Linked DNA regions of Homo sapiens: region 1 is linked to region 2. The links come from fine-mapping of genetic effects on gene expression. A gene starts in region 2. The other region holds a variant in brackets. All regions are shown on one strand. Distances are from middle to middle.

What was found.
Region 1: its variant is fine-mapped to the expression of KNL1 in whole blood (TOPMed, PIP above 0.99).

The regions. Positions count from the first base shown.
Region 1 is chr15:40,646,832-40,654,831 of GRCh38, forward strand. It overlaps KNL1 (kinetochore scaffold 1), which reads left to right. Exons shown (of 26, transcript NM_144508.5): 17 at 156-243; 18 at 3,470-3,547; 19 at 3,713-3,752; 20 at 4,640-4,741; 21 at 5,174-5,274. Among named protein-coding and RNA genes, the nearest start is that of RAD51-AS1, 44 kb to the right of the region's middle. The variant A/G (reference allele first, on the strand shown) is at 3,295.
Region 2 is chr15:40,584,907-40,601,618 of GRCh38, forward strand. KNL1 (kinetochore scaffold 1) reads left to right here and starts at 9,343. Exons shown (of 26, transcript NM_144508.5): 1 at 9,343-9,486. It overlaps TRS-GCT4-2 (tRNA-Ser (anticodon GCT) 4-2), which reads right to left and starts at 9,000; the gene lies at 8,919-9,000. RefSeq lists enhancers at 5,266-5,315, 9,063-9,282, 9,503-9,822 and a silencer at 8,893-8,942.

The DNA of each region.
Region 1 (8,000 bases), 58 kb after region 2:
GGGTAACAGAATGAGACTCCGCCTCAAAAAAAAAAAAAAAAAAAAAAGATTTGCCTGTTTGTGATCATGATAGAGCGATTATGTGAGCAGTTTGAACCATTTATAATATTTTCTTTAGAGGTTTAACTTGACAGTCTATAATCTTTTGTATTTAGAATGAGAGGGAGAAACTTCAAATAAAGATAGATGAGATGGATAAAATACTTAAGAAGATCGATAACTGCCTCACTGAGATGGAAACAGGTAAAGTATTTTAAATACTTTTCCAAAAGAAAATTTAATTTTATCTAAATGCTCTCCTACAGTAGAGAATGTTGGTACCACGATATTGAAGACTTGTATTAGCAACTTGAGATATTAAATTAGAGTAAATTGGCTCACGCCTGTAATCCCAGCACTTTGGGAGGCCAAGCCGGGCGGATCACCTGAGGTCAGGAGTTTGAGACCAGCCTGGCCAACATGGTGAAACCCCATCTCTACTAAAAATTTTAAAATTAGCTGGGCGTGGTGACGGGCGCCTGTACTCCAGCTACTCGGGAGGCTGAGGCAGGAGAATAGTTTGAACCCAGGATGTGCAGGTTGCAGTGAGCCAAGATTGCGCCACTGCACTCCAGCCTGGGTGGCAGAGCGAGACTCCATCTCAAAAAAAATAATAATAAAATAAATAAATAAATAAATTAGAGCAAATTAAAGTTCCTTTACTATAGTCATCCATAATACAATCAAGAGCTGCTCAAGATAACCCAGACTGTAATTTTGTGTTTTTTAATAGATGAATTTATCTCAGTTTGAAAACCGTCTATCCTTTCAGTTTGGTCTTTCATAATCCCAACTTTTTAGAGTTACTCTCCTGAAACTCCTTTCTCAAAGATCACATAATTCTGCATAGTCATCAAATTTTGTTCTTCTCAGTCCTTAGCCATTTTGACCTCTTTCAGCATTTGACACTGATGACTGTTCTTTTCTTCCTGAAATGTTCATCTCCCTTAATCTCTGTGATAATGCACTATCTTGACCCAGTTGTTTTCTCCTGGCTGCTCAATCCAGCTTCTCTGTTGGCCTCTCTTTCTCTAACTGATCCCTTGTGGGGATTTAGATTTTATCATCTGTTCTTTTCTATATTCTCTCCCCTAGTGCTTTCGTGTGCCTTAATAATTATGTGACTGATTCCCAAATTTAAATTCCTCAAGCATTTTTTGAGCATATACTGCATGCCAGATACTGTGCTTAGTATCAGAAAATAAATAAAAATATTTAAGACACAGATTTTGCCCTAAAGGTAGCTTATAATCATTTCAGGTGAGGGCATCTTTAGCCTCTCTTTCTTGAATTCTAGACTCAATTTCTAGCTTCCTTCTGAACCTGTATGCAAAAAATATCCTTAAACACCTTAAACTGTGAATACAGCCTGGGCAACAGAGTGAGGCACTATCTCTACAAAAAACAAGAGATTAGCTCAGCGTGATGGCACATACCTGTAGTCCTAGCTACTTGGGAGGCTGAGGCAGGAAGATCTCTTGAGCCCAGGAGGTCAAGACTACAGTGAGGCAAGATCACACCACTGCACTCCAGCCTGTGCAACAGAGCAAACTAAATAAATAAATTTAAATATATTCTCCGAGCTCAAAAATAAAATTCAAAAACTTGTTCTCTCTTATGATGTTTCTCATCTTTATGTATAGCAGTCACAATTCTTATACATTGTAAAAGCTCAATACTTTCATTGTCTTTGAGGCTCTCTTAACAAGTCCTGTCATCGGCAGCTTCAGCATCTCATGTGTTTATTTTCCTTTCCTATTAAGGCTCACCTTAATTCTGAACTGTGCTATTTCAGTCTTCTAACTAATCTTTATACATTCTTACCATTATTCCACCTTCTTCCATTCCAACCTGCACATTGCTGCCAGATTAATAATTATGAAAGACAGTTTTCATTAATGTTACTCCTCTGAAAAACTTCTGTCTTTCCATTTATTATAAAGTCCAAACTTAACTTTCTTTTTTTTTTTTTTTTTTGAGATGGTATTTCACTGTCGTTACCCAGGCTGGAGTCAATGGCACAATCTCTGCTCACTGCAACCTCCGCCTCCCAGATTCAAGCGATTTTCCTGCCTGAGCTTCCCGAGTAGCTGGGATTACAGGCATGCACCACCAGGCCCTGCTAATTTTTTTTTTTTTGTATTTTTAGTAGAGACGGGGTTTCTCCATGTTGGTCAGGCTGATCTCGAACTCCCGACCTCAGGTGATCCGCCCGCCTCGGCCTCCCAAAGTGCTGGGATTACGGGTGTGAGCCACTGCGCCTGGCCCAAACTTAACTTTCTCTGTGGTTGGCTTAAAGAAAAAAAAAAAGTCCAAACTTCTGAGCTTGACATTTCATATCTTCTACAGTTGTTTTCAGATTTACATGATTTGTTACTACTCCCATACACCTCTTAAATTCTAACCAAACATTGCTATTTTTATGCAGTTCTGCCACTTTTTTGAGACAGAATCTCTCTCTGTCACCCAGGCTGGAGTGCAGTGGCATGATCTCTGCTCACTGCAACCTCTGCCTCCTGGATTCAAGCAATTCTTGTGCCTCAGCCTCCCAAGTAGCTGGGATTACAGGCATGCACCACCACCCCCAGCTAATTTTTGTATTTTTAGTAGAGATGGTGTTTCACCATCTTGGCCAGGCTGGTCTCAACTCCTGGCCTCAAGTGATCTGCCCATCTCAGCCTCCCAAAGTGCTAGGATTACAGGCATCAGCCACTACGCCTGCCTTTTTCTTTTATTTAAAAAAAAAAAAAGAGAGGCAGAGTCTCACTCTGTTGCCCAGGCTGGGGTGCAGTGGCATGATCATAGCTCACTGCAGCTTCAAACTCCTGGGCTCAAGGAATCCTCCTTCCTCAGCCTCCTGAGTAGTTGGGACTATAGGCACATGCCACTAGCCTGATCATTTCTACTTTGGTCTTTGCTACTACATACTACGTTCTCTTTCTGTTTTTCACCAAAGAAAGTAGTCTCTTTTCCTTGAGCTCTCATGGCTCTTTTGTTAGTACTTCTTATATTACCCATCACATCTACTTGTATTATAGTTATTTTGTATAGTTTATCTTCCTGATTAAATTATAAGCTCTGTGGAGGCAGGAATCAGCTCTTCTTTTTCTCCATCTCCTTCAGAGTCCCTAGGACTATATTTCATACAGAGTAAGTGCCTAGTACATGTTTTTTGCACTGAATTGACCATGAGTACATGAATTCCATAGTCTAAAGTTCACCCCTTTGTTGACTACCTTACTTTCTCTTTCACAG[A/G]AAAAAAAAAAAAAATAGAAACCATCAGACTAGAACTTCTGAACTTCCTACTACCAAAGAAACAATCTGTCGTTTAATAAATTGTTTTTGATTGAATTATTCTTTTTTTCCTTACTTTGTTTTCTTTTTTTACTATTTTTCACTGAATTATTCTAACAAATACTGTCTACTTTAGAAACTAAGAATTTGGAGGATGAAGAGAAAAACAATCCTGTGGAAGAATGGGATTCTGAAATGAGAGCTGCAGAAAAAGGTAATTGAATTAGTTAAGGAGATAAATGGGTGTGGGGGAAGCCCTTCTGTTCTGAGTTTGTTTATATACTTTGGTGAGATTAAGTCAGAATTTTCAATAAAACAGATTTTTGTGGCAACATTCTAATATGTTTGTTCTGTTTTTTTTTTTTTTCTGTTTCCAAAGAATTGGAACAGCTGAAAACTGAAGAAGAGGAGCTTCAAAGGTCAGCCTTCAATCCAAGTGTTAGAAAATATAATGCTAAATCACAGAAGGCTAGATGACTTCCTGCCTCCAGAGACTGACAGGATTTGGGGACATGAGTCTTGATTGAGGCTGACTCAGGGCTTCTCCACTTTGAATGGAAACCTAGAGTCCATCTTAGTCAACAGTAGTTTTGAAGCACTTATTGTTTACAGGGCATTTATCCACAACAGTGTTTCTCAAGCTTGAATACTACCAGTATCCTTTTTGTTTAATAAATGTAAATATAAACAAGTATAAAATGAAGTATATATTTCTTAGGCCTATGAATCTTATTCAACTGTAAGTGTAAAAGAAAGTAAATAGAAATAATGACAAAGCCACTAAAATTCTAGTTGACAACATTAATTTGACAGGTGATAGTGTTTGGCTGAAATTAAATTGATGCTAGCAAAATGATTAACAAAGATATGTTCTGTTTAGCTCTAACAACTAAACGAAACCAAATACAGGCAAAAAAAAAAAAACTGTGACATGTCTCAGTTTTAAAGTATATCTTATGATCTACATTATGCTTATATTTTTATATTTTTGCTTTTTATCAAAAATAAAAATGTAGTATTTAAAAGTTATCTTAACATGTGAATCCCAAGGATATCTTCATGGATCCTAATTTGAAAAACAATGATTTATGCCTTTCCCAGGTAGACCCACTTCTAGATTAATGCTTATATAAAAAAAAAAAAAAAAACTAAACTAAGAATGCAGAAATGGATGCCATACACCTAACATTATTACCTCAATGGGGAGTCATGTAGCATGTGACTTCTTATCATAAACCTTTTATATTGATAGAGTGAATTCTCTAACAAAAACCTTATCTCTCTGAATACCTGCTTTTATTTGCAGAAATCTCTTAGAACTGGAGGTACAAAAAGAGCAGACCCTTGCTCAAATAGACTTTATGCAAAAACAAAGAAATAGAACTGAAGAGCTACTGGATCAGTTGAGGTAAGGAAATGCAGGCATCATTTGTTTGTGTTTTATTCTGTACCTTGTGGTTGTTTAAACCGATTGGAGCAATTGATGTATTTTTAATGTGTTGCTGTTTTTAACCTATACAGTGCTGTTTCAAAAAGAGTCAGTGTACTCAACAGTAAGCTGGAAATAGAGTAGAAGAACTATGGAATTATAATTTTTCCATATTTTATACTTTTCATTGCGTAGACTTGGTGTTTCTCTGATATACAACTCAAGATTGGGTTCTTAGTTATTTCAAAAGCTTAAGTTTGTACATCCACAATATATGAATTGAAATATTTTCTCCCAGTCCAGTGGAAAAACATTAGCAGCTGCTGTTGGTACTGTTTGGGTGGTATCAGAAGTTCTCTTTTATGTTAATTTTAAAAACGCTTTTTAAAAATCTTGTTTATCTCTCTACAGCTTGTCTGAGTGGGATGTCGTTGAGTGGAGTGATGATCAAGCTGTATTCACCTTTGTTTATGACACGATACAACTCACCATCACCTTTGAAGAGTCAGTTGGTAAGGAGCCAAAGTGAGATAATTCTTTTACAGAAAAATGAATGGCTACACTCACTAAAGATTCAAATCTTTATTTTACTATACTGATAACTATTGGCATGATGAGAGCACTGCTGAAAGTCTTAGAACAGTCACTTTATTGATAGCAGAATTTTATTTTATTTTGTAAAGAATAAAATAAAAATGGAATTAGTGAACGTTGCCCTTTGTTGAATTACATTAAATAAAAATTTTGCTCTGCAAATAATGGATAAACATGCTACTCATGTCTATTTACTATGAGTTTCTTTCTTTTCATCTCCATCTTTCGTGATAGAGAATAGAGAATTTACCCTAATGGCTGGAGATTCTTTTTTTTTTTTTTTTTCTTTTTTTACTTAAGAGTGAGGCCCTGCAGCTCACGCCTGTACTCCCAACACTTTGGGAGGCTGAGGTGGGCGGATCATCTGAGGTCAGGAGTTCGAAACCGGCCTGGCCCACATGGTGAGACCCCATCTCTACTAAAACTACAAAAAATGAGCTGGGCATGCACCTGTAATCCTAGTTACTCGGGAGGCTGAGACAGGAGAATCATTCGAACCCAGGAGGTGGAGGTTGCAGTGAGCCAAGATCGTGCCACTGCACTCCAGCCTGGGCAACAGAGCAAAACTGTCTCAAAAAAAAAAAAAAAAAAGAATGAGGCCCTAACAAGTTAATTGGAAGTTCTGTGTGTATAGGTGGGTTTATCATCTAAAAGGATAAAATCACTATATAGGGTGGAAATCACTATATGGTAACTGGACAGAGGCCCAGCTGTTTTGTTGGAGTTTACTAGTTGTCAGTGTCTTTTAGGTATTTTCTCTTTAACCAGTCAGCGTCAACATGGCCAACCATGGGCAAACATGGCCGTATTGGAACGTAGGATCTTCACAATCTCTGGGCCTCTAAACCTGATTCTCCTTGAAAGTTTCTTTTCTCAATGAATAGCGTTACCTTCTGTCCAGGTCCAAAATTAAAACTTAGGAATCACTCTATACCTCTTTCTCCCTCGCTGTACATATTCAAATCATCAGTAAGACATGCTTTTTGTTTTTATTTATTTATTTTTATTTATTTATTTTTTTGAGACAGTCTCACTCTTCCACCCAGGCTGAAGTGCAGTAGTGCAATCTCTGCTCACTGCAACCTCTGCCTCCTGGGTTCAAGTGATTCTCCTGCCTCAGCCTTCCAAGTAGCTGGGATTACAGGCATGCGCCACCACACCCGGCTAATTTTTTTATATTTTGTGGGGATGGGGTTTCACCATATGTGTTGTCCAGGCTGGTCTCAACTCCTGGCCTCAAGCGATTTGCCCACCTTGGCCTCCCAAAGTGCTGGATTACAGGCATGAACCACAGCGCCCAACCTACTGGTTTTAATTTCTTAATATTCATCCACTGTTTTTCATCTGTTCTGTCAATAATCATCTCTAACCTAGATGACTACAGTAACATTCCAACTGGACTTTATGGATCTTCTCCTCCTCCTCCCTGAAGCTATAGTGATTACTGAAAATCTGACTATGCACCTATTACTCTTAGGCTAATGATCAAAGTATTTGATCTAGCCTATGAAGCGTTGCCTGAATTGAATTTTTCTCCTTTTCCTATCTCATACTACCTTCCTACCTCTGCACGTTGGCCACAGTGGACTTCTTTTATTTCCTTAAATGATCATGGTGTTTCCTGCTCAGCCATATTCATCCTATCTCAACACCTTCATGCTGATGTTTCTTATGCCCGAACGCTGTTTTCCCCCACTTCACTAATGAACTCCTACTAATAATTGTAAGAGCTCAGCTCTCAGTGATCAGTTTCTCACCCTTCTGTTGTATGTTCTTGCTTTCTGTGGTTTTCCTTAATAGTGCTTATCATAGTTTGTAGTTCTTGCTGTGTTTATTAGTGCAGTTGTGTGTCTCCCTGAGTTGTAAGCTTGAGGGCACAGGTTGAGTATGCTGTTTTTCTCATGGTATCCACAGTGCCTAACACATAGAAAATATGTAACAAAGCATTCAATAAAGAGAAAATAATCAATTCAGGAGACAGTTAACTCTAGAGTCTGGGGGAGCGAGCAGCTATCTCAGCTACCTAAAATGTATTATAGCAATGCTAAAAGCATAACTCATTTTTACTGTATTTATACAATGATAGGAGTTGTAGAGAGATGATAGCCATTTTCCTTATATGATTGCTGAAAATAAAATTATCTTTGCACAGAAGTTAGGGGTTAAAAGAGGAGGCCTTAACAAATATAGCTGTGTACTACCTTTTAAATGTCCTTCAAAGACATACCAATCAATGTAGTTGAACAGTCTCAGGGGAGCCTTTACTAGATACAGAGAATAATGATTCAAGGATAACCCTTCAACTTCCTGTGGAAAAAACTCTGCTACACAGAAGGAGTAGGATTCTAAAGTACTGAGTTTTATGTGACTTCAAATCAGGTAGTTTAAAAAAAAAAAAAAGGCCAGGCACGGTGGCTCATGCCTGTAATCCCAGCACTTTGGGAAGCTGAGGTAGGCGGATCACGAGGTCAGGAGATCGAGACCATCCTGGCTAACATGGTGAAACCCCGTGTCTACTAAAAGTACAAAAAATTAGCCAGGTGTGGTGGCGGGCGCCTGTAGTCCCAGCTACTCAGGAGGCTGAGGCAGGAGAATCGCTTGAACCTGGGAGGCTGAGCTTGCAGTGGGCCAAGACTGCGCCATT
Region 2 (16,712 bases):
ACTTCTAGCTATCTACCTACAGAAACACTTGTACATGTGCCCCAAGAGACATATAAAAACAGTCACAGCAGTGTTCTTGCAGCAAAAGACTGGAGATAACAAAAATATCCATCAATAAGAGAATGGATACCTAATTGTATGTTCAGATAATTGCAAACTAATCAGCAGTGAAAATGAACGAATTATACGGATAAAACAGTGTCCAGTGACAGAAGTTACAGATGAATACGTTATATAAAATGAATACATTATATAAAATTAAAAAACAGACAAAACATATTTAAGACTACAAATATGTATAAATATGTATATTTGGTAAGAAAAACAAGAGAATGATTAACATGAAATTCAGAAAAGTTGTTATCTTTGCCAGACACGGTGGCTCACGCCTGTAATCCCAGCACTTTGGGAGGCCAAGGCAGGTGGATCACGAGGTCAGGAGATCGAGACCATCTTGGCTAACACGGTGAAACCCCGTCTCTACTACAAATACAAAAAATTAGCCAGGCGTGGTGACATGCACCGCAATCCCAGCTTCTCGGGAGGCTGAGGCAGGAGAATCGCATGAACCCGGGAGGCGGAGTTTGCAGTGAGCCGAGATCGCGCCACTGCACTCCAGCCGGGGGCGACAGAGTGTGACTCCGTCTCAAACAAACAAACAAACAAACAAACAAAAAGTAGTTACCTTTTTTTTTTTTGGAAATGGAGTCTCACTCTGTCTCCCTGGCTGGAGTGCAGTGGCGGGATCTTGGCTCACTGCAACCTCCGCCTCCCAGGTTCAAGCGATTCTCCTGCCTCAGCCTCCCGAGTAGCTGGGATTATAGGCGCCCGCCACCACGCCTGGCTAATTTTTTGTATTTTTTTTTTTTTTAGTAGAGACAGGGTTTCACCATATTGGTGAGGCTGGTCTCAAACTCCTGACCTCGTGGTCTGCCTGCCTCATCCTCACAAAGTGCTGAGATTACAGGCGTGAGCCACTGTGCCCGGCCAAAGTAGTTATCTTTTTGGTGGGAGGATGCCTCCAGGAAGGGACACACAGGAAGCATCAAAGGTGCTAGTAATCTGCCACCTGCCAAGAGGGTAGGAAAAAAAAATTAAAATAATTAAAAATCATTTTTTAAAAAAGAAACAAAGGGGCTGGTAATGTTCTATTTCTCAAGCTGGGTGGTGTATATACAGCATTGCTGTTTTTTTCTTTCTTTCTTTCTTTCTTTTTTTTTTCGGAGACAAGGTCCTGCTCTGTTGCCCAGGCTGGATTGCAGTGGCACGATCATGGCTCACTGTACTCTCGACCTCCCAGGTTCAAGTGATCCTCCCACTTCAGCCTCCTGAGTAGCTGGGACCGCAGCACACACCAGCACACCCAGCTAATTTTTGCATTTTTGGTAGAGACAGGGTTTTGCCATGTTTCCCAGGCCTGTCTGGAACTCTTGGGCTCAAGTGATTCACCCATTTGAGCCTCTTGAGTAGCTGAGAATATGGGTGCATACCACCACACCTGGCTAATTTTTAATATTTTGTAGAGACAGAGTCTCACTGTGTTACCTAGGCTGGTCTCGAACTACTGGCCTCAAGCGATCGTCCCCAACCTTGGCCTCCCAAAGTGCTGGGATTACATGTGTGAGCCACTGCACCTGGCCTTATTATTGTTATTTTTAAACTGTACATGCATATTACATTACGTATGTATGTATTGTATAATTGTGTAATACTATCAAGATAAAACTTTTAAACAACAAATATTAAAATATCTCACCTCTTTTTTTTAACATTTGGTTATCTCTGAAATAGTGACTCTCCTCTTTCAGTCCCACTGCACAACTCTTTAAGATCCATTTGACCTTCACACAGCTGGTGGGTGCTACTCCAAAGTGCCTAGACCATGGGTTGTTTTCACCAGTGGTGGAAAGATAACACCATACACCTAGTATTTTGGAGACTATAATGGTAAGCAATAATTAATAATTTGCAAAAATGGGCCAGGCGCTTGGTGGCTCACACCTATAATCCCAGCACTTTGGGAGGCTGAGGTGGGCGGATCATGAGGTCAGGAGATCGAGACCATCCTGGCTAACACGGTAAAAGCCTGTCTCTACTAAAAATACAAAAAAAAAATTAGCCAGGCATGGTGGCGGGCGCCTGTAGTCCACCTACTAGGGAGGCTGAGGCAGGAGAATGGCATGAACCCAGGAGGTGGAGCTTGCAGTGAGCTGAGATAGCGCCAGTGCACTCCAGCCTGGGCGACAGAGCAAGACTCCGTTTCAAAAATAATAATAATAATAATTTGCAAAAATGACTAACTGCTTTAATTTGCCTTAGCAGATTCAAATACAACTTCTCCATCATAAAAGAACTGAGGGATCTAAAAGCAGTTCATGGCTTTGGAATTCTAGACCCCGCATGCTCTCCGACACAAAGAGCCCAAGAACTTGCATCTTCTATCTCTTCATTACCAAGACATCTAGACAAAAGGTTCTTGAAAATGTTTTAGTAATTCAAGTAAATAATAAGTGATGCAATTATTCTGGTTCTTTTTTCTTTCCAACATTCCAAATGTTGAAGTTAAAGTAGGTTAGGAATTTTAAAAGGAAAGCTTTATATCTGATCTAAATGCCAAATCTTCCAGAATCACAACTGAAGCAAAATTGCAAGGATTAGTCATTTTATAAGCCAAGATATGCCAGAAACTGCCAGTAAACTACAGAAGCTAGATGAGAGATATGAAATAGATTCTCCCTCACACCCCTCCTAAGGAACCAACCCTGTTGACACCTTGATCTCAGACTTTAGCCTCCAGAACTGGGAGACAATAAATTTTTGTTGTTTAAGCAAAATTTTTTGGGTTTTTCTGAGACAGCCTGTCACCCAGGCTGGAGTACGGTAGCATGATCAAGGCTCACTGCAACCTGGAACTCCTGGGTTCAAATGATCCTCCTGCCTCAGCCTCCCGAGTAGCTGGGCCCACAAGTGTGCACACCCATGCCTGGCTAATTTTTTTTTTTTTTTTTTTTGAGGTAGAGTCTCACTCTGTTTCCCAGGCTGGAGTACAGTGGCACAATCTCGGCTCACTGCAACCTCCATCTCCTGGGTTTAAGTGATACTCCTGCCTCAGCCTCCTGGGTAGCTGGAGTTACAGGTGCATGCCACCATGCCTGGCTAATTTTTGTATTTTTAGTAGAGATGGGTTTTTTTGCCACATTGGCCAGGCTGGTCTCGAACTCCTGACCTCAGGTGATCTGCCTGCCTTGGCCTCCCAAAGTGCTGGGATTACAGGCGTGAACCACCGTGCCCAGCCGCCTGGCTAATTTTTTTAATTTTAATTTCATTTTTTGTAGAGACAGGGTCTCACTGTATTACCCAGGCTGGTCTCGACCTCTTGGCCTCAAGCAGAACTTCTGCCTTGGCCTGTCAACATGCTGGGATTACAGGCATAAGCCATGGCACCTGGCCTCAAAAAAGAATTTTAAAGCCTTGCATCTTGGGCTGAAATAAAGGCCACCTCTGATACCTCCTAGGTTATATAAAAAATGACTACTGACAGTCATTGAAAGGAGAGTTGATTGGAAGTGATCCTTTCAGTGAGTTCCCAGAAACTGACATTAAGGAACTATTTCAGTTTTTTAAAGCTAAAAAATCAAAACAAAAACAAAACATTTTTTCAGATGTCAAGTTTCTGTGTTATTCAATAATTTAAAAATCAGAATTCTAGACCAGGCACGGTGGCTCACACCTGTAATTCCAGCACTTTGGGAGGCTGAGCGGGGCAGATCACCTGAGGTCAGGAGTTTGAGACTAGCCTAGCCAACATGATGAAACTCCATCTCTACTAAAAATATAAAAATTAGCTGGGTGTGGTGTGGCGCGCACCTGTAATCCCAGCTACTCAGGAAGCTGAGATGAGAGAATCGCTTGAACCTGGGTGGCGGAGGTTGCAGTGAGCCAAGGTCGCGCTACTGCACTCCAGCCTGAGTGACAGAGTGAGACTCTGTCTCACAAAAAAAAAAAAAGGAAAAAAGAAAACGATCAGATAAACAACTGGCTAACTATCCATCACTACCTCAGCTTGGGATATACCATAAAGTGTTATTCCCTATTTCCCTGAGTCTTTGGCATTTACTCATTCATCTTGGCTTTCCTAGACAATGTTACTAAAACTGGATTTCCGTTTTGCTCTACTGATCTTCAATATGAAAATGTTATTTAGTTTTCAGTTCACTAGACATTCCTAGAAGTTGTTGTAGTATTTTCACACGATAGAGTACATCTCAGGGAATGATTTTAGAAAAGAAAAACGTTTTGGGTCGGTGTTGTAGACTCAGAGCAGAATGCATGGATTCACTATGGAACCTCTCCAGACCCTGTCATCACTGTGTTCCCAGAGATGGTTCTCCAGTGGGAGAACCTAATGGTAAGGAACAAATTGACTTCACTTCTGTCATTGCCTGCCTCTCAAAACCAGTCTTTGCAAGTCTTGGAGCCTGAGGTCTGGGTTTTTCTTGCAAGAGTTAAGAAATAAACTTTAGATGTGTCAAAAAAAAAAAAAAAAGCCAAACCGAACAAACAAAAACAAAGCATTGATTTCAATTCTTCCTTCAGAGCTATGTCATATAAGGGCTGCTGCTGACACACACAGCCTGTCTGGGCTGTGGACCAGTTTATTATTTCATAATAAACATTGGCCATTGATTCCCAGAGAACCTCATTTTCAAAAGAGGGAATTGGTCCTCTTAAAGCTGGCCCCAGATAATGAAGACGCATTGCCTAACACTCCAATAGTAAAAGAGCTGGAATATCTTGGTAAGATATTTATGCAACAGTCCTTTGCTGTGGTCTTCCAGAGGTTGAGGTGTCCTGCAATAGTTGAGGATAGTACTTGCAAGGAAGAACGTTGGTGTTGGTAGAGAACGGTTTCTTTGAGCTGTGGTTTGTTGAAGAATTTGGGGAGTTAATGGAGATCTCTGTAGACGAGAGCATCCATCTCGGTAGACGAGAGCATCCATCCCTGTAGATAAGAGCATCTTGTCCGAGTCTTGCAGTTGCAGCTGCTCCAGTAGATGGCGCCTCTAACTCTTTTCCTGTCAGCTTCTTACAAGCTTCTCTTTCCGTTTCTAATTGAAGTATTTCTTTTTCTTTCCCTTGACTTTTTTTTTTTTTTTTTTTTTTTTGAGACGGAGTCTCGCTGTGTCGCCCAGGCTGGAGTGCAGTGGACCGATCACGCCTCACCGCAGCCTCAACCTCCGGGGCTCAAGCGATCCTCCCACCTCAGCCTCGCAGGACTACGGGCGCTAGCGACCACACCAGCCTCTTTCTTTCTTTCTTTCTTTTTTCTTTCTTGTCTTTCTTTCTTTCTTATTTTCTTTTTCTTTCTCTTTCTTTCTGTCTTTCTTTTTCTCTCTCTTTCCTTCTTTCTTGAGACAGATTCTCCCTATGTTGCTTGGGCTGGTCTCGAACTCCGGGACTCAAGCAATCCTCCCACCTCAGCCTTCCAGAGTGCTGGAATTACAGGTGTGAGCCACTGTACTCAGCCTAAAAAAGTGAGTTTTCAACTCACAATTTTTTTCTTTTTTTTCCTCTATATTCTGCCAGTACATTTCATTTTCATAACTTATACAGCTGAAGATTTTCCTTTGAAAAAATAATCTTCCCAGCCCATGCAGCACGCCGTCCCATCCAGCATGGCCAACATGGTGATGTTGCGGGACAATCAAAAGATGGGAGAGACCGAACAGAGTGAGTTCAGGAAAGGTCTTTATTAAAAGGTGGTCACTTGGCCCAGTAGGACTAGCCTCCAGGAAAGTCTGAGCCCCAGACAAAGAAAGTAGCCACGTTTTACGCAGTCAGTGGCCGGGAGCAACGTGATGCAGGAAGGGTACTTACAGAAGCGAGAACAAAGACAGTTGATCAGTCTTTTACATTTATCTATACTACACGTTCCACATCCCTGGGAAACCATGTTTCTGTACCAACCTTATAACTTTGCAGCTGCCCTAGGGAGGGGAAGCAGGAACTCGCTGAGCCTCAAGGAATGTGAAACTAGCAAGTACAGATAAGGCTCGCCGAGCACAGAAGGAAAAGCAGGCAGTTAGTATTCTTCTCTAACTTGGCCGGGGGTCTTCTCTAACTTGGCTGGGGGCGGGGCGGGGGGGAGGTGGCTACACTACACTTAGCTTTTGAAGGAAAAAGTAAAAATTTTCGGTTGTCTTTGATTATACTTGTAAAATTCATGAATTCCTTCTTCAGTGAAACCCAGTCTCTCTTAAAAATACAAAAATTAACAGGGCGTGGTGGCACACACCTGTAATCCCAGCTACTTGGAAGGCTGAGGCAGGAGAACTGCTTGAACCTGGGAGGTGAAGGTTGCGGTGAGCGGAGATAGTGCCACTGCACTCCAGCCTGGGCGACAGAGCGAGACCCTGTCTCAAAAAAAAAAAAAAAAAAGTCTACCCATGCTCTGCACAGACGTTGATAGACCTATAGTTATCACTGCAAGAAGCTGGCAAACCTCAGGAAAATGATGCAGCCCTGGCGTCTCTAGAGAAGTTGCAGCACTAATGGGCAATGTAAATAAAAATGTATTTACAAATGCATTCCCAGCACTTCCCTGGCAAGTGCTGGGAAAAGCCTAGCAGGCCACAGAAGCGTCTAGGAGGGTTACAAAGGTCCAGAAGCAAGAGAGAGCGCACGGGCTAGTTGAAATGGAAGAGGGAGCTGCAGGTTGCAGGGCTTGTTGATGGGGGTGACCTCTAAGCTCAGATCCGAAGGAGAAGCAGGAGCCGCCCAGGCAGTGACATGATGGGAAAGAAGAGGGTGGGGTCAGGGGTATGTTGCAGGGAGAGGAGCAGGGACGGTATCTACAAACGTGTTGTGGAAAGAGAAAAAATCCTAGTTCAAGGAAAGGTAGATCTGTGTCTCCAGGGAGATTTAGAAAGGTCTCTCTCAGGGGCTCTTAACCTTTTTTTTGTGACACAGACCCTTTTGGCAGTCTGGGGAAGTCTAAGGATCTCATCTCAGAATTTTTTTTAAATTTTGATTAAATTTTTAAATTTTTTTGTAGAGACAGGGGCCTCACTATGTTGCCCAGACTGTCTTTGAACTCCCGGACTCAAGGGCTGCTCCTGAGATTTCAGGCATGAGCCACCATGCCTGGCCAGAATGTTGTTTTTAAATGTATAAAATTAAATATGTTAGAATACAAAGGCAACCAATTTTGTTGGAATAGTTGCCAAAATATTCTCAAAGTTTGTGATGTAATAATATAATAATGCATGCACTTTTTTTTTTTTTTTTGAAATGGAGTCTTGCTCTGTCGCCCAGGCTGGAATGCAGTGGCATGATTTTGGCTCACTGCAACCTTCACCTCCCGGGTTCAAGCAGTTCTCCTGCCTCGGCCTCCCCGGTAGCTGGGACTACAGGCACGTGCCACCACGCCCGGGTAATTTTTGTATTTTTAGTACAGATGGGGTTTCACCATGTTGGCCAGGCTGGTCTTGAACTCCTGACCTCAAATGATCCACCCACCTCAGCCTTCCAAAGAGCTGGGATTACAGGTGTGAGCCACCGCGCCCAGCTTAATGCATGCACTTCTTTATGAATGCATAACATTACAAGACATAATAGCAGGTCTAAAAATTACCACAATTTTGAAGTAGCAATGAGCGTAAAGCAATAACAGTAATCTGATATAAAAATATCTGTGATTTCTATTGGTGACAAAATAATGGATAAGGTTAATATTACTGTAGTTAGTTGCTTACCGTTATTGAAGGATGTGCTTTCAATTAGGGAGTGTGGAAATAAGGATGAAATCTTTTTCTGAACCAAATAACCCACTGAATTCTATCCATGGACCCCTTGGAAATGCGTGGAACCCAGCAGAAACCCTTCCTAGCAGCAGGGTAGAGAATGCATTGGAGAGCAAGGCTAAGGAAGGGTGACTCAATGTCCTGAGCCCAAGGAGGTATCAACATTCCCAACGGATTTGGATCTGTAACAGAAAGAAGCCACTGGAGCCAGCAGAGAATGGGGCCACTGCTTTCCATACTCAGTGCCCAAACCTTGCTGAAGCACCTGCCAGAGGCCGTGTTGTGGAGCATGGTGCAATGCAGACAGCCTTGTGGAGGAGACAATCTGTAAACCATGACTGCAAAAGATTGATAAATACTGATTATTAATCTACAGCACAGTGTAGGATTGATAAATACTAATTATTAATCTACAGCACAGATTAGAAGGGTGATTAAGCCAGCGTCTAGTAGATTTGGGTTACACTCTCCTTTCTTCAATTTAGAAGCTGTATAACCTCGGGCAAGCTAATCTTTCAGTCTCCTCATCTGTAAAATGGAGTAATAAAAATATTTGTCATGATCAAGGGTTATAGTGATGTAATTCATGTAAAACATGTGGTGCCTGTAGATAATAAATACCGGATAAAGTGTCTCATGGTAGCTTTTGAAGTGAAACCTGGTATCTCATAATCAGGACAGGTGTTAAAAACCCCAGAGTAACAGTCTACAATAATTGAAACTCCTCAGTTAGGAGCTGTGTTAAAGTTGGAACAGAGCAGCATTGGAACATATGGGATGGTAATAATTGTGGAATTCTATTCACTGTTGTTAACTCCATATAAAAAGAAATTAAATCCAGCATGATTTCTGATTCCTGGAAAGTCTCTTTCCCTCCCTTTTCTTTATCTGTGATGTCAGAACGTTCCAAATACTGTATTTCAACATTTCAGGCCTGAAACTGATGGTGCCAGATTAATTGAGTAATAAATAATAAGTATTCAAGTTTTTCCGCTCTGCAAATTTACTTTGGTTATTAAAAAATTTATTCTGCTCTGCAAATTTACTTTGGTTATTAAAAAATTTATTCTGCTCTGCAAATTTACTTTGGTTACAAGCAAAAGTAAGCCACCACATCGACGAGGATGGGATTCGAACCCACGCGTGCAGAGCACAATGGATTAGCAGTCCATCGCCTTAACCACTCGGCCACCTCGTCCCGGTAAGTTACTGTTTCCTGATTGCTATAGGGAGTAATATCAAGGGGCTGTGACGCAATGTTATGGAAGCCGCCATTTTGTACGGAAGCCAAAGTCCAATCACTTCCATAGCAAGCAATCGAAAGAAGATGGCCGCTCCCACGATTGTGGGGGAGGTCTCCACTGGGGAGGGGCAGAGGAAATTCGGTCGAAAAAGAGATAAAGCTGAAGGAAATAAAATTGGCACGGAGTCTGGGAAAGTAGTTTCCCTAAAGGAGTCTTAGAAATAGGGTTGGTCTGGAACCTAAGGGGCGGAGCCGACGCGTAGAGCCGCTTTGCGCGTGCGCATCACCTAGGCGGTTAGATTTGAATACTTCACTGAGGCGAGCCGGGCGTTGTGAGCGGACTGCTAGAGGCGGCTGTCTGTTTCCGCTCTAAGGAAACTCAGAGCGTGTGGACCCCAAACAAGTCTGCGCAAAATTTGTCGAGGAGGTTTGCCGCGGCAGGTAAAGAGAATGACTCTTTCGTTCTGGGCTTCAGGGAAGGCTTCGGGTTTTGTCTGGGCGCCCTGAAGTTCCTGCGGTGGGAGGTAGGGTACGCTCCCTCAGCCTGGCGGCCTCCGTTAGCGCCGGGCCGAGTAGACGCCCCTGCCCCGGGCCGGGCACACTGTGCCCTTTTTCCCCTCCTCGGCCTGTACGTTGTGCCGCCTCCCGCTTCCCTAACACTTCTCCGCCTGCACCTCGGCCCCTCCGGCCACCCGGCTCGGGTTGCTTGTCCGTCGCTCTCTTGGCGTCCTCTTCCGCCCCGCCCTGCCGTCCTCTGTCAGGGCTCGCGGACTCTTCTTGCACCCCTGCCGCTCTTCCCTAGGGACCTCTCGGCTGTTTGTATTTCTCACTTAAGCTTTTTTTGGCTCTAAATGAAGTGACAGCAATGAGTGATTTTAAAATTCTCAGCTCTTCGTGGTTTAAGGTGTCTGCTCGGAGTGCTGGCCGCACGTAACAGATTTTTCGTTTTCTGCAAGTATAATAACCTTAACAAATGAAGTCAATATTAGTACTGCGCAAATTAGTTTTTAAAAATCCTCTTCTGTTCATTATTCCTCAGGATTTAAGCCCTTATTCTTCACGTTTATTTAAATACTCAAGTTTGAGGGAGGAAAAAGTATTGCCGATTGGAATTTTACAGATAGGTTTAATAGGCATTAACAGATAAAGGATGTGGATGAAGACCAAAGCAGAAGCTTATTCCAGTCTAGATATTAAAATTGATGTTTTCACTTCCGTCGAATCCTGTAGATATTTATTGGGTTCCTTATCCTGTGATAGGGCCGGGGACAGATGATTCCCAAACCTAGAGGGGTTTACAAAGGGAAATAACTAATATACACAAATAACTAGAATACAAGACAGAATGTAAAAGATTATAGGACATTCTAAAGTGGTGTGGGAGCACGGAAAAGGGAGAGCTTATTTGATGCTTTTGGTGATGGATTTGTGGAGAAGACCGCATTTGAGGTGGACGTTGGTTGGAGAGATGATTTACAGATGGGAGTTAATATGTGGTAAAATTTTGGTAATTAAAGGTTAGGGTCAAAGCAGTATAATTCTTGACTTTGCGAATGGCTGGAAATCTTTACAAGATGATAAATACATGTAAATTGAATTAAAATGTTTGGAATGGTAGTATTAATGATGTGTTCGATGTTAAATAATAGACTGTAAAAGATACTGACTCTAGATATTGCCAGTAAAGCAGTGCTGTCCAACAGGGCTTCCTGTGAAAATGGTAATGTTTTATATGTGCACTCCAACATACTACCCATTAGCGACATGGGACTATGGAGCACTTGAAATGTCATTATTGTGACCAAAGAACTGATTATTAAATTTTATTTTATTTTCATTAATTTAAATGTAAATAACTACTATATTGGACAGCACAGGTCTAGAGTCTCTGTCATTTCACTCTTATCCTCCTACAATCCCGGAAAATACTAACTCTAGATATCGGTCGTATAAATGTAGGAGTGGGCAAAGAGCCAGATAGTAAATATTTCAGGCTTTGCAGGCTACATGGTCTTTGTCACATATTCTTTGTTTAGTTGTTATTGCTTGCCTTGTTTTCTACAATCCATTAAAAGGGTAAAAAAACACTCTTAGCTCAAAGGCTAATTGGGCTCAGTCGCTGTTTGAGGACCTACGGATTATTTAGAGTAGTGGTTCCCAAATTTTCTTGATGCATGGCACCCTGAGATCAAAGAAATACCTAACAGTCTATTTATTGAGTACAGTGGTTGGGTCCAAACATTAAGTATATATGTCCCAAACTTAGTAGCCATTTAAAAAAATACAGAAATTGAAGGAAAATATGATATTTTAAATTTTATTTATTTATTTATTCTTTTTTGTGAGACGGAGTCTCGCTCTGTCACCCAGGCTGGAGTGCAGTGGTGCTATCTTGGCTCACTGCAGCCTCCGCCTCCTGGGTTCAAATGATTCTCCTGCCTCAGCTTCCGCAGTAACTGGGATTATAGGCACCCGCCACCATGCGCAGCCAATTTTTATATTTTTAAGTAGACACGGGGTTTCACCACGTTGGCCAGGCTGGTCTCGAACTCTTGACCTCGGGATCCGCCTGCCTTGGCCTCCCAAAGTCCTGGGATTACAGGTGTGAGCCACTGTGCCTGGCCAAAATTTTATTATTAAATAATCACACTTACTGATTGGATATCTGTGCCTGTTGGACACTGCACAACTTCTGAAACTTTGGAATCAGTTTATACCCTGTCACCCTCATTTCCTGTAGTACTTTAATAAAAAATACTTGCTTTTGGGCCGGGCACGGTGGCTCACACCTGTAATCCCAGCACTTTGGGAGGCCGAGGCAGGCAGATCACCTGAGATCAGGAGTTTGAGACCAGCCTGACCAACATGCAGAAACTGCGTCTCTACTAAAAATACAAAATTAGCCAAGCGTGGTGGCGCATGCCTGTAATCCCAGCTACTTGGGAGGCTGAGGCAGGAGAATCACTTGAACCTGGGAGGCAGAGGTTGCAGTGAGCCAAGATTGCGCCATTGTACTCCAGCCTGGGCAACAAGAGTGAAACTCCATCTCAAAAAAAAAAAAAAAAAAAAAGGTACTTGCTTTTTATCACAGCAACTGCAAACAGTTTATCTTTACAGTGATGTTATTAAAACTAATGTAATGCAAATGTACTGTTTTGATCTAGTAGTTCACACAGTACCTGACAGGTGTTCAGAACTGCTGTGCATCTCTCAAAATTTTTAAATATCCCAGGACACCATTGTGAGTATGCTGCAGCACCCTTGGGTGCCAGGTACACAGTTTGGAATCAGTAACTTTTTTGTTTTTTTTTCTTTTCGAGACAGAGTCTCACTCACTGTGTTGCCCAGGCCAGAATGCAGTGGTGCCATCTCAGTTCACTGCAATCTCTACCTCCTGGGTTCAGGGGATTCTCCTGCTTCAGCCTCCCAAGTACCTGGGATTACAGGAACACGCTTCCATGCCTAGCTAATTTTTTTGCCCTGCTAATTTTTTTGTAATTTTAGTAGAGACAGAGGTTTCACCATGTTGTCCAGGCTGGTCTTGAACTCCTGGCCTCAAGTGATCCACCCACCTCGGCCTCCCAAAGTGCTGAGATTACAGGCTTGAGCCATCGCACCAGGCCCCGGGAACCAGTAACTTAATGTGTCAATAATCAAGAGTTTGGCCGTACCAGTGTTTTATAAATGAGGCTTAACTTGTGAGTCTGGAGTCTCCTATTTGTGTTGAAAGTGGAACTTAACAGTTACAGAATATTTTAAAAGGGGGACTTCAGTAAGTTTGAATTTTATCAGTTAATTGCTAACTGATTGGTCTACAGATTGGACAGGAATTATGCTTAATGACTGTTTTAAACAACAAAGATATTTAGGTGATCTTGAGTTGATAGTAGTTATTATCTGTGAATTTTGAACATGTGCACTGAATTTGAAAATATTTCCCCTGGGCGCGGTGGCTCACGCCTGTCATCCCAGCACTTTGGGAGGCCGAGGCGGGCAGATCACTAGGTGAAGAGTTCGAGACCAGCCTGACCAACATGGTGAAAACCCGTCTCTACTAAAAGTACAAAAATTAGCTGGGCGTGGTGGCAGGCGCCTGGAATCCCAGCTACTCTGGCGGGTGAGGCAGGAAGGAGAATCACTTGAACCCAGGATGGGGATGTTGTGGTGAGCTGAGATGGCACCATTGCTCTCTAGCCTGGGCAACAAGAGGGAAACTCCGTCTCAAAAAAAAAAAAAGAAAAAGAAAAAAAAAGAAAATATTTCCAAAGGAGAAAAAATATGCGAGTTGGTGGTCAAATAATTGTTTCTTAATTACTCATTCAGCAAATGTTTATTGAGGCTGGGCCTGCTGGCTTATACCGGTAATCCCAACACTTTGGGAGCAGAGCTGGAAGGATTGCTTGAGGCCAGGAGCTCATGACAAGCCTGGGCAGCCTAGTAGACTCCAGCTCTACAAAAAATAAAAATAAAAAAATTAGCCAGGAATGGTGGCAGGTGCCTGTAACCCCAGCTCCTCAAGAGGCTTGAGGATTACTTGAGCCTAAGAGTTTGAGACTGCAGTAAGCCTAGATCACACCACTGCACTCCAGCCTGGACAACAGAGCAAGACCCTGTCTCCCTGCCCCCTCCGGCCCCCCAAAAAAAACAAAAAAATGAGTGGGTTGGGGATATTGGGGATATATATTGGAAATCGAATTAGATGTTGGATTGAATAGAAGTAAATGGCTGTCATACTTTTTGGATCTTGGAAAGTTTTCAAAGTTTAACTATTAAGTTGATCTTTCCTATTAGTTTTTTGAATATATACTGTTAACTTACCTTCTATTTCTCGTTTGCTGTATTAAAAAGAAATTTTTTTAAATTTGTTTTCGAGACAGGGTCTAGCTCTGTTGCCCAGGCTGGAGTCTAGTGGCGTGATCACGGCTCACTGCACCACCTACCTTCCAGGCTCAAGCTATCCTCCTGCCTCACCCTCCCAAGTAGCTGGGACTACAGGCATGTGCTACCATACCTGGTTAATTATTTTTATTTTTAGTAGAGACAAGATCTCACTATGTTGCCCAGGCTGCTGTCAAACTCCTGGAGTCAAGCAGTCCTCCCACCTTGACTTCCCAGAGTGCTGGGATTACAGGCATGAGCCACCATGCCTGGCCCATTTGAAAAAAAAAATTTTTTTTAAACAACTATAGCTTTAAAAAAAGAGTATTTTTCAAAAAATTAGCTGAGCATGGTGGCGGGTGCCTATAGTCCCAGCTACTAGGGAGGCTACTTGGGAGGCATGAACCCGGGAGGCAGAGGTTGCAGTGAGCCAAAATTGCGTCACTGCACTCCAGCCTGGGTCACAGAGCAAGATTCTGCCTCAAAAAAAAAAAAAAAAAAGTTTTGTTTTGTTTTGTTTTTTTAAACAGGAAAGGATGTTAAAATTCATTAAGCATCCTCCCCCACCCCCCGAGACAGGGTCTTTCTCTGTTGCCCAGGCTGGAGTGCAGTGGTTTGATCTCTGCTCACTGCAGCCTCTGCCTCCCAGGGTCAAGCGATCCTCCCACCTCAGCCTCCAGAGTAGCTGGGACTACATGTGCGAGCCACCATACCCGGCTAAGTTTTGTATTTTTCGTAGAGGTGGGGTTTTGCCGTGTTGTCCAGGCCCCTTTGGACTCCTGAGCTCAAGTGATCAGCCTGCCTCGGCTGCCCAAAGTGCTAGGATTACAGGTGTGAGCCACTGCCCCCAGCCCTTAACTTTTTTCTTCATCTGTTGAGATGATTATATGATTTTTACCTTTTAATCTGTTAGTAAGGTAAATTGCAAGGTTGATTTTCTGATATTAAACCGATTATGTATTCCTTTTTTTTTTTTTTTTTTTTTAAAGAGACGGGGTCTCCCTATGTTGCCCAGGCTGGAGTACAGTAGCTATTCACGGTTGCAATCATAGTACACTGCAGCCTGGAACTCCAGGGTTCCAGAGATCCTCCTGCCTCAGCCTCCCAAGTAGCTGGGACTGCAGGCACATTGCCCCATATCTGCCCACCCAATTTTGCATTTCTGCAATAAAACCAACATGACCGTGATATATTATCCTTCTTACAAATTGCTGGATTCTTTTTGCTGATATTTATTTGGGATTCCTTTTTTTTTTTTTTTTTTGCAATGGAATCTCACTTTGTTGCCCAGGTTGGAGTGCAGTGGCCCCGTGTTGGCTCACTGTAACCTCTGTCCCCTGGGTTCAAGCAATTCTCCTGCCTCAGCCTCCTTAGTAGCTGGGATTACAGGCACCCACCACCATGTCGACTAGTTTTTATATTTTTAGTAGAGACGGGGTTTCACCATGTTGGCCAGGCTGGTCTCAAACTCCTGACCTGAGGTGATCCATCCACCTTGGCCTCCCAAAGTGTTGGGATTACAGGCATGGGCCACCACGCCCGGCTATTTGGGATTTTTATACTTTTGAGAATGGCATGTAATCTTTCCTTGGTGTGTGTGTATGTGTGTCTCAGAGGTGGTTGCAGGAAAGGAAGTTAAATTTTGATCTCCCATGGTGGGAAGACAGACAGTTTAATGGCTAAAACTAGAAAAATAGCTGGGCACAGTGGCTCATGCTTATAATCCCAGCACTTTGGAAGGCAGAGGCAGGTGGATCGAAGCACATCAAATATCTTTCAGGTACCTGTTTACTTATTGCTAAAAGCAAGAACATTGATCCTGTTTATGTGTATTGTATTAATTTAGTGTTGTGGTGGAAATGCTAATATGGTTGAGTCAAAATCTCTAGCTATTCTTTTTTGAAATCTGCAGTGGCATTTTTTTCTTATCCAAGGATGAGATTCTAAAGTTAATACATAAAGTGAAAATCAAATATAGGGAGGCAGGAACTGAGACCAGTTCAGGAAACTTCACGTTATGCCTCTAAGTTCATATTCTTTCCAGGGCAAATACTCACTGAGTGAAATTTAAAGCATTATCAGCTATGCTAATAAGGTGCTATTTTCATGTGTTAAATTTTTTTGCTGAGTACTTATCGTTGACTTTCCCTCAGATAAATATACATATGATGCAAATTCACTATATTTAGATATCTAATTCAGGTGTCCCCAACCCCCTGGGCCGTGGAACGGTATAGGTCCACTGCCTGGATGGCACAGTGGGAGATCAGTAGCAGCCCAGCATTAGCGGCCTGAGCTCCGCCTTCTGTCGGATCAGCAGTGGCATTTGATTCTCACGGGAGCACAAACCCTGTTGTGAACTGCGCACACGAGGGATCTAGGTTGCGGGCTCCTTACGAGAGTCTAATGCCTGATGATCAGAGGTGGAACAGTTTCATCCCGAAACCATCCCCCATCACACCCTCCTGGTCTGTGGAAAAATAGTCTTCCCTAAAACTGATCCCTGGTTTGGAAAAGGTTGGGGACCACTTATCTAATTGATGTCCACTTTGGGAGTGGATTATTAAATAATCTGCAAACTCTTATAAGCTAGGCCAAATTTTTATTTGAACCAGTAAAGTCCCTAGCATCCTGATCAAAGTTAGTCACTGATTTTTATCTTGAGTGTGATAATTTTCCAGGAATATTAATTATAATAGTGGTTTAAATTTATTAAAATGGGCCAGGCGGGGTGGCTCACGCCTGTAATCCCAGCACTTTGGGAGGCCGAGGCGGGTGGATCATGAGGT